Regions from separate parts of the Homo sapiens genome. Here region 1 is linked to region 2. The links come from fine-mapping of genetic effects on gene expression. Tissue or cell type: whole blood. Region 2 holds a variant in brackets; the other region holds the start of a gene. All regions are shown on one strand. Distances are between the middles of the regions.

What was found. PIP is the estimated chance that this variant, and not a neighbour inherited with it, causes the effect.
Region 1: it holds the start of PARP4, and the variant in region 2 is fine-mapped to the expression of PARP4 in whole blood (TOPMed, PIP above 0.99). The same link has a PIP of 0.9 or more in lung and tibial artery.

Annotation. Positions count from the first base shown.
Region 1 is chr13:24,508,074-24,517,429 of GRCh38, reverse strand. PARP4 (poly(ADP-ribose) polymerase family member 4) reads left to right here and starts at 4,652. Exons shown (of 34, transcript NM_006437.4): 1 at 4,652-4,724. The region is part of intron 1 of LOC105370117 (a long non-coding RNA gene); the gene reads right to left. RefSeq lists a silencer at 4,495-4,654.
Region 2 is chr13:24,475,635-24,484,990 of GRCh38, reverse strand. It overlaps PARP4 (poly(ADP-ribose) polymerase family member 4), which reads left to right. Exons shown (of 34, transcript NM_006437.4): 12 at 243-338; 13 at 6,715-6,898; 14 at 7,134-7,290. Among named protein-coding and RNA genes, the nearest start is that of PARP4, 32 kb to the left of the region's middle. The variant T/C (reference allele first, on the strand shown) is at 4,949.

The DNA.
Region 1 (9,356 bases), 32 kb before region 2:
ATGCACCACCATGCCCAGGTAATTTTTTGTATTTTTAGTAGAGATGCAGTTTCACCATGTTGCCCAGGGTGGTCTTGAACTCCTGAGCCCAGGCAATCTGCCCGCCTCGGCCTCCCGAAGTGTTAGGATTACAGGCATGAGCCACCATGCCCGGCCAAAATCATGAAATTTTTTAAATTCCAAAGTGACCTTCACATAGATTTAAGTAACAGTATATTTAGATGCTGCTTCTGTGCAGACAGTGTGGGCACGGCAGAGCTGCAGCTGCCTAACTCCTATTCCACGTGTGAGAACATGCAGGAGTCAACTCTGCAGCCCTGCAATCAGCACATTAGACCTGGAGCACCCACACAGACAGTGATGCGAATGATCTGAGCTGTTCCCTAGTTATCAAAACCCGCCCTTTAGATTATCCTTAAAATTTTGGTATCATTGGTTGATGGAATACAGGCTGACTTTTCCTTCTGGCATGATCTCAGCTCACTGCAACCACCACCTCCCCAGTTCAAGTGATTCTCCTGCCTCAGCCACCTGAATAGCTGGGACTACAGATGTGCACCACCATGCCCAGCTAATTTTTGTATTTTTAGTAGAGATGGGGTTTTACCATGTTGGCTAGGCTGGTGTCAAACTCCTGACCTCCAGTGATCCACCGCCTCAGCCTCCCAAAGTGCTGGGATTACAAGCATGAGCCACCACACCCAGCCAAGAGTTCACAACTTTTCATTGTTGGTCTGATGGTAGCAAGTGTCCACTCTGTCCAGAGAGGACATGTCAGGTGCAGTGGCTTACACCTGTAATCCCAGCACTTTGAAACACTGAAGTGGATCATTCGCGCCCAGAAGTTTGAATGTTAGCCAGGCATGGTGGCATGCACCTGTAGCCCTAGCTACTTGGGAGGCTCAGGCAGGAGGATCACTTGAGCCCAGGAGTTTAAGGTTATGATCACACCACTAGACTGCAGCCTGGGCGACAGAGTGAAACCCCCAACTCTTAAAAAGAAAAAAGAGAGAACATAAGTGCTAGCCTGGCCAAGGGATGATCCCCAAGCCCATGTCTTCCAGGCCAGAAAGGGGAATTCTAACAGGTTGGGAAGATGCACTGAGAGATGCATGTGTCTGGCCTCTAGGCAAACCCAAGAAAACCCACATCCTCCTTCACCTGCAGGAAGAGTGAAGGAGTTCTTCACCAAGGCCTGAAACCTCAGATTTCCAGAATTACTTCTGGAAAGTTTCTAACAACAACCTTGGGTGCTGAGAGACATTTTTTAAATCTTGGCAGTTTGATATAGGTAAATCTATTGCTGGTGCATTGGACTTACAACAAAACATCCTGGAAACCTAATGAGTCTATACAGCAAAGGGATTATCACATCCACTACATTCTAGAATGCCTGACCAATGATGAATGAAGTTGAATAGATAGTAAAGGATTTCTAGCTTGAATCTTTGTTGTAATAAGAGCAGAACAATACCATAATAGTTGTCACACCTGTATTTTTGCTTTCTTCAAAAATAGCAATAATTATATAGTAGTTGGATGGTTCTTCAAGCATTCTATAGGTTTTTATTACACATTTTTTTTAGATGGGATGACTCTATCACCCAGGCTGGAGGGCAGTGGCACAATTACAACTCACTGTAGCCTCAACCTCCAGGTCTCAAGTGTTCCTCCTGCCTCAGCCTCCTAGGTAGCTGAGATGACAGGCACATGCCACCATACCTGGCTAATTTTTGCATTTTTTGTAGAGATGGGTTTTCACCATGTTGCCCAGGCTGGTCTTGAACTCCTGGGCTCAAGCAATCCACCTGCCTCAGCCTCCCAAAGTGCCAGGATTACAGGCATGAGTCACCGTGCCTGGCCTATCATTTCTTGGAGGAGAGTTTTAACAGATATAGAATTCATGGTTGCCGGTTTGTTTGTTTTCTTTCAGCACTTTATATCATCCCACTGCCTTCTGGCTCCCATGGTAATAGATTGGCTGTTAATCTTATTCAAGTTCCTTTGTATGTAGTGATCATTTCTGTCTAGCTGCTTTTAAGCTTCTCTCTGTCTTTGGCTTTCAACAGTTTGATTATTAATATAACTCTATTGTGGACTTTTTGAGTTTATCATACTTGAAGTTCATGGAGCTTCTCTGAAGTGTTACATTATGTATTTTAACAAATTGGGGACTTTGGAGCCACTGTTTCTTCAGATACTCTTCCTGCCACCTTCACCCTCATCTTTCTTTCTGGGACCCCCTTTATGCATATGCTGATACACTTGATGGTGTCCACAAATCTTTTGGACTTTGATCTTCATTCTTCTACTTTCTGCTCCTCAGAGTTAATAATTTCAACAGTTTTATCTTCGAGTTTGCTCATTCCTTCTCTTACCTGCTCAAATCTACTCTGGAGCATCACTTGTGTATTTTTCATTTAAGTTATTGTATTTTTTTCTTTTTCTTTTCTTCTTCTTTTTTTTTTTTTTGAGACAAGATATTGCTCTGTCACCCAGGCTGGAGTGCAGGAGTGTGATCTTAGCTCACTGCAGCCATGAACTTCTTGGCTCAAGTGATCCTCCTGCCTTAGCCTCCTGAGTAGCTAGGGCCACAGGCATGCACCACCATGCCCGGTTAATTTTGTAATTTTTTTGTAGAGAGGGGATCTCCCTATGTTGCCAAGGCAAACTCTTGGTCTCAAGCGATCCTCCCGCCTTGGCCTCCCAAGACACTAGGATTACAGGCATGAACCACCATGCCTGGTCCTATTGTACTTTTTAACTACACAATTTCTTTTTGGTTCTTTTCAGTTCCAAAATGTGTTTGGTTCCTTTTATAATTTCTATCTCTTTATTAATATTCCTTATTTGTTTTTTAAATAATTTCAACTTTTATTTTAGATTCAGAGGGTACATGTGCAGGCTTGTTACCTACATATAATTCGTGGTGCTGAGGTTTGGGGTATGACTGAGCCCCTCACCCGGGGACTGAGCATAGTACCCAATAGTTTTTCAACCCTTGCCCCTCCCCCTCCCTCCCTGTCTAGTTGTCCCCAGTGTCTATTGTTGCCATCTTTATATCCATGAGTACCCAGTGTTTAGCTCCCACTTACAAATTAGAACATGTGGTATTTGGTTTTCTGTTCCTTCATTAATTCACTTACGACAATGGCCTCCAGTTGCAGTCACGTTGCTGTGAAGGACATGATTCCATTCATTCTTTTTATGGCTTCGTAGTATTCCATGGTGCAAATGTACCACATTTTCTTTATCCAGTCCATTGTCGATGAGCACCTAAGTTCATTCCATGTCTTTCCTATTGTGAAGCGTGCTGTGACGAACATACTAGTGCATGTGTCTTTTTGGTAGAATGAGTTCTCTTGTTTTGAATATGTACCCAGTAATGGGATAGCTGGGTTGAATAGCAGTTCTGTTTTCAGCACTTTGAGAAATCTTCAAACTGGTTTCCACAGTGGTTCAACTAATTTACATTCCCACTGACAGTGTATAAGCATTTCCTTTTCAATAAAGCCTTGCCAGCATCTGTTGTTCCTTGACTTTTTAATAATAACCATTCTGACTGGTGTAAGATGGTATCTCATTGCAGTTTTAATTTGCACTTTTCTGATAATTAGTTATGCTGGGCTTTTTTTCATGCTTGTTGACCATTTGCACATCTTCTATTGCATATTCTCTATTTATTGAGACTTTGTTCTCCTGGTTGTTTCTTTCAGTTATTTTTCTATGTTTCCTTTCACTTTTTGTCCATGTTTAAGACAGTTTATTTGAAGTATTTGTCTAATAATTCCTATGTCTGTGCTTCCTCAGCTCAGGGACAATTTCTGTTCATTTCTTTTTTCCTTTGAATTGGCCATTTTTTCGCCTTTTTTTTTGCATGCCTCATAATTTTTTGTTGAAGATTGGACATTTTGAGCATTACGATGTGGTAACTCTAGGAATCAGTCTCTCTCCTCCCCCAGAATCTCTTGTTGTTTCTTAGACAACCCTATAGAGTAGGTTGTAATGATGAAACTTGGTAAATTACCTTGTCCCCAGCCCCCTTGGTAATAAATTGTGGAGTCAGGATTCAACCCCATACCCTTTCCACTGTATTCTCTACTCTATCCTTTCTATTCTCATTTTATTCAGTATCCTAAAAATCTGAATCTTCCCCATTGCTTTATTCCCATTTCAGTGAATCTCAGATCTGTATCTCCAGCCCCCTGCCTCTCTTGAATGGCAGATAAATATATTTCCAACTAGTTACACTGTCACGAATTTCAAACGCAGGAAGGCTTAAAGTAAATTTATTATCTCACTCTCCTGTTTCCACGAACTTTCCCGAAATTTTCTTCTTTCCCGGCCTTGTGAATCCCTTCCATTTCTCAGTTAAAGGACAGCACCATCCACCCACCTCTCTCAAAGCCGAGCTTTGTATTAATCCTCATTGACAAAATCCCTCCTGAAATATGAAACTGAAAGCCCTGAACCCTCCGGCTGATCTTGGAAGAGAAACCCCGCCAGAGGCCGGGGACCCGCTCCCCACCTGGCGGACCCGATTCCGGGCGCGTTCCGGCTATCGTCCCTGCTTGGGACGCTGCGCCCGCCTGGTGCGGGGCGGGGTTCCGGCGCAGTGGCGCCCGCCCAGCCCCGGGGGCAGGGAGAGCCTAGATTACGGAAGTACCGCGAGCAAGGAGCGCGGAATCGGGGAGCGTCCGGAGCTAGCTGGATCCTCTAGGCAGGTGCGTGGGCGCTGCGGGGTGGGGGGCTGCAAAGGTCCCTGTAGTCCTAGCCAGGAAGTGGCCCGCGTACTACTTTCCCGCCAGTGGCTGCACCCTTGCCCTGCGCGGCGTTGGCGCTGTGGGCCTGACGGCGCTGCTAGGCTCGGGAGTGGACTAGCTAGTGCAGCCAGCGCCCTCGGGGAGGGATATTGCGGTCGTTCCGCTCTGCCCCGCGGCGCAGCCCTGGTGACGAGAAACCGGGTGCGGTGGGGGGCGCCCACCGGAGCCGACAGTCACACCAAGTCTCCGCACCCCGTGCGGTGCGGTTCGCAGTAGCACGCGTTGTTTCTTGTTTCCAGTATGCCAAACGGCCTTCTTTCCTAAAGTTAGGTTTCGAATTGTGCAAAAAGTAAGGTGGTTTGGTGAGTAATCAGGAAGTACTATCTGACCTCGTGAGTCATTGGGAACACCGTGATAGAAACAATGTGTTTGTTGAGGTCCAAAGTTGAAAACCTCTAACTCAGTTAAGTAATTCCTGCTAGGAGGGCCGAATGGTTCACCCAGGGATCGAGTTGGTAGATCACAGGTTCTAGAAAACTAAGGCGCTGCTAAATATTCAAGCCCAAGCACTTTCAATTCTGGACTGCTGGATGACAACAATTATATGACAATATCCAAGCATAGTGCTATGATAAAGGGGAAGTTCGCTCTGAGATGTGCGTGTTGCAGACTCATTACATCTGACTTTATCATTTATTAAGTAAACATTAGGTCTTGTTTGTGTGCGTAGAGCTACTGTATATCATGTAGGAGTGAAATAAAAGTAGTACCTTTGTTGTTTAAGGGTTTAATAAACCCATTAGGGAGGTGCATTACTGATGCCATTTGAGTCCAAAATGCAAATAGTGTCAGAAGGCTTTTCTGTAATCCTGGGCTTTAATGGATACGTGAGAGTTTTTAGTAAGCAAGCTTTTATTGAATGCCCACTGTATATCAAAAGTGATCTTAGCGTGTGCTGACTCACACACTTCGGAAGGCGGAGGCTGTAGAATCAAGACTGCCCAGAAAGGGACTCCTCAGGGTTTTCCGAGAGGAGGAAATGCCAGTGGTAAAGACGAAGACCTGTGAAGCAGGAAGCCACTTGATTCCACCTACACCAATGGTTTATGGAGCAGCCAAGAGTTTGTGAGGAGGCGCGCTGAGGGTTTCTTAGGAATCGGGGCTGTTCCCTGCTGTCTTTGGGTGGAAGACACTCTGTGAATGTTATTTGGGGAAGAAGCTGGGAAGGGGGACAGGCTGGAGTGACTGTGCAGATTTGCCTTAGAGAATAACCAGCCCCTAGCCCAGTGTCCGCCACATCTCATATGTACGTAATCAGCGCTGATGAAAACATGAACTAACTCTGTGTTTAGAGAACACTTTGAAACAAGGAAGAACTAGTGGCGCATGTCGGTTAGGCGCTGTTAACCCAGAAGAGGGCTGGCATTTTACAGAGACTAGAGATGAATCTGTGGAAAGAGAGAAGTCAAGACCTGACTTGAGATTTCACGAAACCCAAAGTGCGCCTTTCCATACCTCCCACGCAGCCGCAGGTGCTAAGAACAGACCGCAGATTTATGTTTAAAATGTTTTTACTCTGGGCCGGGCGTGGCAGCTCACACCTGTAACCCCAGCACTCTGGGAGGCTGAGGCAGGAGGATGGCTTGAGCCCAGGAGTTTGTGACCAGCCTTGGCAACATAGTAAGAACCCTGTCTCTACCAAAATTAGCTGGGCATGGTGGTGCAGGCCTGTGGTCCCAGCTACTAAGTAGGCCGGGTGAAAGGATTGCTGGGAGGGAGGTCGAGGTTGCAGTGAGCTGTGACAGTGACCACACCACTGCACTCCAGCTTGGGAGACAGAGCCAGACCCTGTCTCAAATAAAATAAAATGTTTATACTTTGATTTCACAACTATGTGTATGTACTTAATGCCACTGAACTGTACACACAGTTTTAAAAACTGTACCACAATTTTTAAAAGGCTAAAAAATGTTTATACTCCTTGATTCAGTAATTCCATTTCTGGCCATCAACTCTAGGGAAACTATGACAGAGATGTGGCAAAAAAATATATGTACAAGCATTTTAATTAAAGTGTATTTCTAATAGTGAACACTTTTTTTTTTTTTTTTTTGAGACGGAGTCTCGCTCTGTCGCCCAGGCTGGAGTGCAGTGGCGGGATCTCCGCTCACTGCAAGCTCCGCCTCCCGGGTTCACGCCATTCCCCTGCCTCAGCCTCCCAAGTAGCTGGGACTACAGGCACCCGCCACTACGCCCGGCTAATTTTTTGTATTTTTAGTAGAGACGGGGTTTCACCGTTTTAGCCGGGATGGCCTCGATCTCCTGACCTCGTGATCCGCCCGCCTCGGCCTCCCAAAATGCTGGGATTACAGGTGTGAGCCACCGCGCCCGGCCAATAGTGAACACTTTTAAGTAACCAAGTATCTGATGACTTGGGGAAGGATGAAATAAACGCAAAGCTTATGTAACCACTAAAAACACCTTCAAAGAATATTTAGTGACATGGGGAGGATATCACTAAAAGCTAAATAAGCTGTGAAAGTGAAAGTCCTATTTAAAAAGTAAAGAGCAACTGGCTATAACATTAAATATAGAATATTAATAATTTAGAAAATACAATGATACAAGAAATAATAACACCAAAAAAATTAAAATATCAACAGTGGGGGCTAGGTGTGGTGGCTCATGCCTGTAATCCTAGCACTTTGGGAGGCAGAGGTGGGCAGATCACTTGAGCTCAGGAATTCGAGACCAGCCTGGCCAACATGGTGAAACCCCGTCTCTACTAAAAATACAAAAATTAGCTGGGCGTGGTGGTGCGTGCCTGTAGTCCCAGCTACTTGGAGGCTGAGGCACGAGAATTACTTGAACCTGGGAGGCAGAAGGTTGCAGTGAGCTGAGATCATGCCACTGCACTCCAGCCTGGGTGACAGAGCGAGACTGGCTCAAAAAACAAACAAATAAAAATCAACAGTGGGGTTATTTCTGGATGGAGGGATCAGGTGCTTTTTTAAAAATAACTTTATTGACCCATAATATGTATGTAACTATTATGTATCCAAAAAATACTATTTAAAAAATGTATTGGGGTACAATTTACATACATTAAATTCATTCATTTTAATTGTACAATTTAGTAATTTTTCTCTCTTTTTTTTTTTTTGAGATAGGGTCTCTTGTCACCCAGGCTGGAGTGCAGTGGCATGATCACAGCTCACTGCAGCCTTGACCTCCCAGGCTCAAGTGATCCTCCCACCTAAGTCTCCTGAGTAGCTGGGACCATAGGCATGTACCACCTTGCCCAGCTAAGTTTTGTATTTTTTGTAGAGATGAAGTTTCGCCATGTTGGCCAGGCTGCTCTCAAACTCCTGGGCTCAAGCGATTTGCTCCACTTGGTCTCCCAAAGTGCTAGGGTTACAGGCATGAGCCACATTGCCTGGCCTAATTCAATAATTTTTAATAATTTACCAAGTTGTGCACCATCACTGCAGTCTAGTTTTGAGCATTTCCATCATTTTAGGTGCTTTTTATTTTTTCTTCTTAGTGATTAACTTTTAACACAAAAAAATTGTTCAAACTTTGATTCAGTAGTTCTAGTTGAGTATTATTTTCTAAGATGATTGTTGGAGATGGAAACAAGGATTTGCACATAAGGATGTTCATCATAGCTTTTTATGATACCAAAAATCAGAAATGATTTAATTTTCCAACAATAATTCATTTATGGTCCATATCTGATAGTCTCTATTAAAAATGTTTTCCAATAATATTTAATGACAAAATGCTAAAGATGCTGACTGATAACAGCGGGATAGGTAGTGTGATGTCAATTTTGATAAAAAATACAGTCTGTGGCTGGGTGCGGTGACTCATGCCTGTAATCCCAGCACTTAGGGAGGCCAAGGTGTGCAGATCACTTAAGGTTGGGAGTTCGAGACCAGCCTGGCCAACATGGTGAAACCCCGTCTCTACTAAAAATACAAAAAGTAGCCAGGCATGGTGGCAGGCACCTATAATCCCAGCTACTCGGGAGGCTGATGCAGGAGAATCGTTTGAACCCGGGAGGCGGAGGGTGCCGTGAGCCGAGGTCTCACCACTGCACTTCCGCCTAAGTGACAAAAGCGAGACTGTCTCAAAAAACAAAGTGTTATAATAGACCTAGAAAAAAGCCCAGAAGAAAAATGCAAAACAAGATGCTAACATAGCCCTAGGTTTTGAGATTTTTTTGTTTTGTTCTTTTTTTTTCTGTTATACAATTCTGTATTTTTCAAATTTTCAACAGTGACCATGAGTCACTTTTCCAGGAAACACGTTTTAAACAGGTCAGAGGATTTAACACATCCAGGACCCATCTGAAGGTGGACTTGAGCAGCCACTCCATGTCAGCCAACCTTGGTCAGCATAAGTGGGGGTGCAATTATCACATAGAGGCTGTCCTGGAAATTATTAAAGAGTCATTAAAGGCTTTTAGTGTTTTTTTTTGTGTGTTGTTTTTAATTGTCAGAGATTACGACTAGCATAGATTAACCTAAATAGTGTGGTGTAATCTCTTTTATGGTACCCCTCATTTCATCCCTCCTATCTATGCACAGA
Region 2 (9,356 bases):
ACCAAAACCCAAAAGCTATTTTACAAAATTCATTCAATCTCCTAATGTGAAATTCAAACAATAGATGTTTATATAATAAAAGGCAGAAATTTCCCTTGTGTTTCCGGAAACAACCATGGCTTCACCCTGATTGCAGAGTTCTCTGAATGCCAGAAGTTCAGTAGGAACCTGCCAAAATTCTGAGCAAGGAAGAGATGCAGTCAGTGTTGGGCTTACACCTTATCCTGCCCTTCTCTTTTCAGAGGGTTGCTTTTACCCAAAGTAGTGGAAGATCGTGGTGTGCAAAGAACAGACGTCGGAAACCTTGGAAGTGGGATTTATTTCAGTGATTCGCTCAGGTATGTTCGATCCTTAATCACAGAATCGTTACTGAATACTTGCTGTGTATTTTCTTCTGTCTTTCCTTGGTGAGGGAGTTTCTCAACCAAAACACAGATTTATCTATTATATATGACCTCAATGTGGCTGGAATACTATTTCATCTTCAGCATCCTTGATAATGTTTAAATCTGCCCTTATGCCAGACATGGTGGCTCGTGCCTGTACTCCCAGCTCTTTTGGAGGCCAGGGTGGGAGGATCACTTGAGCCCAGGAGTTTAAGACCAGCCTATGCAGCATAGCAAGACCCTATCTCTACAAAAAAATTAAAAAATTAGCCGTGCATGGTGGCGCTAATAGAACCTATAGTTCTAGCTACTGGGGAGGCTGAGGCAGGAGGATCACTTGAGTCCAGGAATTCAAGGCTGGAGTGAGCTATGATTATGTCACTGCAGTCCAGCTTGGGCAACACAGTGAGAAGAACCCCATGTACATCATCTGCCAACCTCATAATTGGTATTGTGACATCATTTAATGCAAGGAAACAGACTCAGGGAGGTCAGGGAACTTGCCTAAGGTTGCAGAGCTAATTAAAGGATGGAGACTGAGTTCAGGCCCAGGACAAAGGATAATGATCCAAGATATTTAAAGAGTTCCTACAAATCAATAAGGAAAAGATAAACAATCCTATAAGCAGATGTGCAAAAGACTTAAATAGAAACCTAATAGCAAAGAAGACGAGCTGGGGCCAGGCGCAGTAGCTCATGCCTGTAATCCCAGCACTTTGGGAGGCCAAGGCAGGTAGATCACTTGAGGCCAGGAGTTCGAGACCAGCCTGGCCAATGTGGCGAAACCCCATCTCTAATAAAAATACAAAAATTAGCTGGGCGTGGTGGTGTGCACCTGTAGTCCCAGCTACTCAAGAGGGTGAGGCAGGAGACTGGCTTGAACCTAGGAGGCAGAGATTGCAGTGAGCTGAGATGGTGCCACTGCACTCCAGCCTGGGTGACAAGAGCAAGATTCTGTCTCAAAAAATGAGCTGAGTGCAGTGGCACACACCTGTAGTCCCAGCTACTCAGGAGTTTGAGGCAGAAAGATTGCTTGAGTCCAGGAGGTTGAGATTAGCCTAGGCAACACAACAAGACCCCATCTCTAAAAAAAACTTTTTTTTTTTTTTTTTGAGACGGAGTCTCGCTCTGTCGCCCAGGCCGGACTGCGGACTGCAGTGGCACAATCTCGGCTCACTGCAAGCTCCGCTTCCCGGGTTCACGCCATTCTCCTGCCTCAGCCTCCCGAGTAGCTGGGATTACAGGTGCCCACCACCGCGCCTGGCTAATTTTTTGTATTTTTAGTAGAGACGGGGTTTCACCTTGTTAGCCAGGATGGTCTCGATCTCCTGACCTCATGATCCACCCGCCTCGGCCTCCCAAAGTGCTGGGATTACAGGCGTGAGCCACCGCGCCCGGCCAAAAAAAACTTTTTAAAATTAGCCAGGCATTGTGTCACACACCTGTAATCAAAGCTACTCAGGAGGCTGAGGCAGGAGGACTGCTTGAGCCCAGCAGTCCAAGGCCACAGTGAGGTATGACTGAACCACTACATCCAGCTTGGGAGACAAAGCGAGACCCAATCTCTTAAAAAAAAAAAAGAAAAGAAGAAAAAAAGAGCACTGTAGTAACAGAACACTGGAAATCATGCAGATGTCCATCGACAGTGGAATGGATCCGTACATTTTGGTGGAGTCCTACATGAAGTCCTGTCCTTCAGTTGAAACAAGTGGACTGTGGCTACACATGTCAAATGGATGAGCCTTAGGACCTTAGTGGATGAAAAGTTATTAGATGATTCCTTATACAGGCATACCTTGGAGATATTGAGGGTTTGGTTCCACACTACTGCAATATAGCAAATACTGCAATAAAGTGAGTCACACACATTTTTGGTTTCCCAATGAGTATAAGAGGTTTACACTCTAGTCTATTAAAGTGTGCAATAGCATTGTGTTTAAAAAAAAAACAATGTACATAACCTTAATTTTAACTTACTTTATTACTAAAAATCCTAACGATCATCTAAGCCTTCAGTGAGCCATTGTCTTTTTGCCGGTGGAAGGTCTCGTGTCAATGTCTATGGCTGCTGACTGATTAGGGTGGTGGTTGCTGAAAGTTGAGGTGGCTGTGGCAATTTCTTAAAATAAGACAACAATGAAGTTTGCCTCAGCAATTGACTCTTCCTTTCATGAAAGATTTATCTGTAGTATGAGATGCTATTTGATAGCATTTACCTAAAGTAGAACTTCCTTGAAAATTGGAGTCAATTATCTCAAACACTGCTGCTGCTTTGTCCACTAAGTTTATGTGATATTCAAAATCCTTTGTTGTCAGTTCAACAGTGTTCACAACATCTTCACCAGGAATGGATTCCATCTCAAGAAACCACTTTCTTCACTCATAAGAAGCAACTCCTCATTCTTTCAAGTTTGATCATGAGATTGCAGCAATTCAGTCCCATCTTCAGGCTCCAATTGTAATTCTAGTTCTCCTGCTGCTTCTGCCACATCTACAGTGACTTTCTTCACTGAAGTTTGAACCCCTCAAAGTCACCCAAGATAGTTAGAGTAAACTTCTTCCAAACCCCTGTTAATACTGATAGGCTGACCTCCTCCCATAATTCATCAAATGCTCTTAAGGGCAAGGAGAATAGCAAATCCTTTCCAGAAGGTTTTCAATTTACTTCGTCCAGATCCATCAGAGGAATCACTGTCTATGGCAGCTATAGCCTTACAAAATGTATTTTTTTCTTTTTAGAGTTGGGGTCTTGATCCATTATTGCCCAGGTGAGAGTACAGTAAGATGCAACCATAGCCATAGCTCCCTGGAACCTCAAACTGCTGAACTCAAGTGATCATCCCACCTCAGACTCCTGGGATTACAGGCATACCTGGCCAAAATGTATTTCTTTCTTTCTTTTTTTCTTTTTTGAGATGGAGTTTGCTCTTGTTGCCCAGGCTGGAGTGCAATGGTGTGATCTTGGCTCACTGCAACCTCCGCCTCCTGGGTTCAAGCGATTCTTCTGTCTCAGCCTCTTGAGTAGCTGGGATTACAGGCGCATGCCACCACGCCTGGCTAATTTTTGTATTTTTAGTAGAGATAGGGTTTCATCATATTGGGCAGGCTGGTCTCGAACTCCTGACCTCAGGTGATCTGCCTGCCTTGGCCTCCCAAAGTGCTGGGATTATAGGCATGAGCCACCACGCCCAGCCCAAAATGTATTTCTTAAATAATAAGACTTGAAAGCTGAAATTACTCCTTGATCCATGGCTGCAGATTGTAAGTTGTGTTAGCAGGCATGAAAACAACAAATTCCTTGTACCTCTCCATCAGAGCTCCTGGATGGCTAGGCGCTTTGCCAGTGAGCAGTCATATTTTGAAAAGAACCTTTTTTGTTGAGCAGTAGATCTATACATTGGGCTTAAAATTCAGTAAACCATTCTGTAAACAGATGTGCTGTCATCCAGGTTTTGTCGTTCCATTTGTAGAGCACAGAAAGAGTAGATTTAGCGCAATTCTTAAGGGCCCTAGGATTTTTGGAATGGTAAGTGAGCACTGGCTTCAGCTTATAGTCACCAGCTGCATTAGCCCCTGACAAGAGTCAGCCTGTCGTCTGAAGCTTTGCAGCCAGCCATTGACTTCTCTCCGGCTGTGGAAGTCCTAGATGGCATTTTCTTCCAATAGAAGGCTGTTTTGTCTACATGGAAAATCTGTTGTGTGGTGAAGCCACCTGCATCAATGATCTTAGCTAGATCTTCTGGAGAACTTGCTGCAGCTTCTACATCAGCACTGGCTGGTTCATCTTCCATTGTTACGTTATAGAGATGGCTTCTTTCCTTAAACCTCAGCCAACCTCTGCTAGCTTCAGGCCTTCTTTCTGCAGTTTCCTCACCTCTCTGAGCCTTCATAGAATTGAACAGAGTTGGGGCCTTGCTCTGGATTAGGCTTTGGCTTAAGAGAATGCTGTGGCTGGTTTGATCTTCTATCCAGACCATTAACATTTTCTTCATATCAGCAATAAGGCTGTTTTGCTTTGTTATCATTCCTATGTTCACTGGAGCAGCACTTTTAATTTCCTTCAAAAATTGTTTCTTTACATTCACCACTTGGATAACTGCCACAAGAGGCCTAGCTTTCAGCCTGTCTTGGTTTTCAACATGCCTTCCTCACCAAGCCTAATCATTTCTAGCTTTTAATTTAAAGTGAAAGATGTACAACCCTTTCTTTCACTTGAACACTTAGAGGCCGCTGTAGGGTTATTATTAATTGGCCTAATTTCAATATTGTTGTATCTCAGGGAATAGGGAGGCCAGAGAAGGAGGAGAGAGATGAGGGAACCACTGGTCAGTGGAGCAGTCAGAACACACAAAACATTTGCCAAGCCCACCACCTTGTATGGGCACAGATTGTTGCAGCCCAAAACAATTGCAATAGTAATGCATCCAGAATTGGTGGGTTCTTGGTCTCACTGACTTCAAGAATGAAGCCGCGGACCCTCGCGGTGAGTGTTACAGTTCCTAAAGGCGGCGTGTCCAGAGTTTGTTCCTTCTGATGTTCAGATGTGTTCGGAGTTTCTTCCT[T/C]CTGGTGGGTTCGTGGTCTCGCTGGCTCAGGAGTGAAGCTGCAGACCTTCGCAGTGAGTGTTACAGCTCTTAAGGCGGCGCATCTGGAGTTGTTCGTTCCTCCCGGTGGGCTCGTGGTCTCGCGGGCTTCAGGAGTGAAGCTGCAGACCTTCGTGGTGAGTGTTACAGCTCATAAAGGCAGTGTGGACCCAAAGAGTGAGCAGTAGCAAGATTTATTGCAAAGAGCGAAAGAACAAAGCTTCCACAGTGCGGAAGAGGACCAGAGCGGGTTGCCACTGCTGGCTGGGGCAGCCTGCTTTTATTCTCTTATCTGGCACCACCCACATCCTGCTGATTGGTAGAGTAGGGTGGTCTGTTTTGACAGGGCGCTGATTGGTGCGTTTACAATCCCTGAGCTAGACACAAAGGTTCTCCACCTCCCCACCAGATTAGCTAGACACAGAGTGTCCACACAAAGGTTCTCCAAGGCCCCACCAGAGTAGCTAGATACAGAGTGTCAATTGGTGCACTCACAAACCCTGAGCTAGACACAGGGTGCTGATTGGTGTGTTTACAATCCCTGAGCTAGACATAAAGGTTCTCCACGTCCCCACCAGACTCAGGAGCCCAGCTGGGCCCCCTTTGCCAGAACGTGGTGAGATAGGAAGGAATAGAGAGAGCTCCAGGGAGAAGTCCAGAGTGGGGTTTAATGAGAAGGAAGAAAGCATGCTTGTAAGTTGCAGGAAAAGAGCCCTCCAAAGGGGAGAGGATTTTAGAAGGAATGGGGGAACTGATTTTTTTTTTCAGTAGGTGAAACAAAGAAGGGTCGTCTGGCCATACTTCGGCATTTTGAACTTAATCTTTAAAAAACAGACATGCGTCTCCAAAATGTTGTGTCCAAAGGTGTGTCCTAGTCTGTGCTCCTAATAGCAAGAGTTGCCTTATTAAAGCTGCTGATTCCCAAAGAAAGATAAAACAACATTTCTCATTTGGATATAATTTGAAATGTTTGTTTTTCCTTTCAGGAGGCTTTGTGAGAGCTTGTCTTTCCCTTTGACCAGTTCTTACTCACTTGGTACCCACGGTTCTTATTCCTTTCTGAGCTTTAGTGCAGAGAATTAAATCTACTTTTTCCTAATTAATAAGGTGGTGATTTTTCCTTCTCTTTACCACCCTGGTATTTATGATAGTAAAATGTGTATATTTTAGTAGCTAACAAAGATTTAGGAGAACAGTAGAATTCATTTCTCTCTGGAAACAAAGTGCTTTGAGCACTGCCTAGCACAACATAAGGGCAGTATACATATTTGTCACATAGAAATGCGAAATAGGCCAGGCATGGTTGCTCATGCCTGTAATCCCAGCACTTTGGGAGGCTGAGGAGGGAGGATCACTTGAGCCCAGGAGTTCGAGACCAGCCTGGGAAACATAGTGAGACCCCATCTTAGCAGAAAATTTTAAAAGTTAGCTAGGTGTGGTGCACATCTATAGTCCCAGCTACTCAGGAGGCTGAGGCAGGAGGATCAGTTGAGCCCAGGAGTTGGAGACTGCAATAAGCTATGATCATGCCACTGCACCCTAGCCTGAGTAACAGAGCAAAATTCTGTCTAAAAAAAAAGAAGAAATATTAAATAAATAAGTGCATAATAAAGTTCTAAATTGAGTCTTTGGAGATATTTCAATAATAGGAAAATTTAGAACAGTTTACCAGGAAAGTCTTTTCAATAGTATGTTATTGACAAGTCACTCTAAGCTGTAAATATGTGTTTATTTCCTTTCGCATGTAGTACAAGTATCAAGTACTCACACCCGGGAGAGACAGATGGCACCAGACTCCTGCTCATTTGTGACGTAGCCCTCGGAAAGTGTATGGACTTACATGAGAAGGACTTTTCCTTAACTGAAGCACCACCAGGCTACGACAGTGTGCATGGAGTTTCGCAAACAGCCTCTGTCACCACAGACTTTGAGGTATTTTTATTTCAAGGAAGAAGCAAAGAGGGTCTTGAATGCTCAAAGAAAGGCCTTAGTTTTTTGCTCCTATTTTCATTAAATATGCTTAAGTTTAAATAATTGTTATATATTTACTGCATGAATTAATTCAACATTTTCTAAATTAGCAAACATGCTTTTATGAAAACATCTGCCAATACAGGTTTTTTGTTGCTTCTGTTGTTAATCACCTACTGATTTCTGTTTGCTCTAGGATGATGAATTTGTTGTCTATAAAACCAATCAGGTTAAAATGAAATATATTATTAAATTTTCCATGCCTGGAGATCAGATAAAGGACTTTCATCCTAGTGATCATACTGAATTAGAGGAATACAGACCTGAGTTTTCAAATTTTTCAAAGGTTGAAGGTAGGACAATTTTCTTGAATGCTGTTTTATGTTATTATATTTATAGACCTCAAATGTTATATTTTCAATGGAATGTATATTTGCATTTGTTATATCTATGACCTCATCCATAAGTATTTCATTTCCTTTCAATCTCAAAATTGTTTCCCACAAATTTCTCTCAGTGTTAACATCAGTCAAACCCCTCTGCCTAGTATCAAAATAAAGCACTTAATTTTAAAATATATATATTTCTTTTTTTTTGAGACAGGGTCTCACTCTGTCCCCCAGGCTGGAGTACAGTGTGTGATCAAAGTGCACTGCAGCCTCAAACTCCTGGGTTTCAAATGATCCTCCTGACTCAGCCTCCTGAGTAGCTAGGACTACCATCCGTGACTTTTTTTTTTAGAGACAAATTCTCACTATGTTGCTTAGGCTGGCCTGAAATTCCTGGCATTAAGCGATCCTCCTGCCTTGGTATCCCAAAATGCTGGGATTACAGATATGAGCCACCATGGCCAGCCTCATTTCCTTTTTTATCTTGCGTACATAACAACTAGGATGATTGAGAAATTCCATGTGACTTCATTAACACACTGAAGTTGAGCTTATTCGCTTCAGGAATAGCCAAGGCTAAAACCTGTGGAACCTTGCTAAGATGTCATGGTGCAGAAAGTGTAATGGGGTGGGGAGAGCAGACAGCAGAGCCGCTGTAGAGCCAGGAAGCCCAGGGTTTGAGTGTCGCCCTGCCACCTTGCAGTTTTGAAACTGCATGACCTTTTGCGCTCCACCTTCTCTCCGATGGGAATGAGAGCAGTACCCGCATGACAGAATTGCTGTAAGGGCTGAAGGGGAAATTGAAGGCACTGAGTAAATTGCCATGTGTGGTGCGTGTGTTAGCCATAGTAGTGCGAGCATACAAGAGGATATTCACTTCTCAGAGTATCATGAGGCCAAACAATTACAGTATTAATTAGTAGGACTGTAAGAACACATTAACATTTTTGACCATGCTCAAATTATTTTTTGTCAGAAACGCATGAGTTCATGTGTGTTCAGGGGTGACTCCAGTTTTTTCTCTGGGAGTCATTAAGTGAAATATCTGGCAAGACAATATGTATTTATATTTCCTAACCTTATCTGTATGTTTGTGCCACTTAGAATAGGATGTGTACATTTTTCAATATGCTGCCATAGGAGTTGATTCAGTCTTCCTTGGATTGAAAATCTACGTTGTTTGATGCCATCCCAAAATGCTTGTGTGGCACCATAAATAATAGTGACCGAGCCCTTCCACACTATAAGCCAGGGAATGCAGACACCTGGATTCAGGCTTCAGCCACACTTCAGACAGTCTGAAGACCTCTGTGTATTTGTGTGTATGTTTAAATGTATGTCAAGTAATGCTGTGTTTTCAGGAGGACACCCCACAGTCTCTACATTAAAAAGGCAGAAGAGCACATGTCTGTAGTCGCAGCTACTCGAGAGGCTAAGGCAGGAGGATTACTTGAGCACAGGAGTTCAAAACCAGCCTGGGCAACATAGTGAAACTCCAATCTCTACCAAAGAAAAAAAAAAGAAAAGAAGAAAAAAAAATTTAAGCTGAAGGGTCTTTAAAAAACAAAAAAAAAGGCAGGCCAGGTGTAGTGTCTCACGCCCATAGTCCCAGCACTTTGGGAGGTCAAGGCAGGTAGATCCCTTGAGTCCAGGAGTTCAAGACCAGCCTGGACAACATGGCTAAACCTCATCTCTACAAAAAATACCAAAAAATTAGCTGGGCATTGTGGTGCATGCCTATAGTCCCAGCTACTCGGGAGGCTGAGACAGGAGGATCACCTGAGCCAGAGAGGAGGGGTCTACTGTGAGCAGAGATTGTGCCACTGCACTCCCACTTGGGTGACAGAGTGACATGCTATCTCAAAAAAAAAAAGGCAGAAGGCACCTCTCATTTTTCTCATGTGGGTTCACTTGCTTTTCAGAATTGGCTATTGAAAATCATAAAATGCTATTTGCCCATTTTCCCTAAAATAAAATGCATGAAGGCTTGAAGAAGGAATAAAGATCAAGATAACAAAAATAGACAGGGA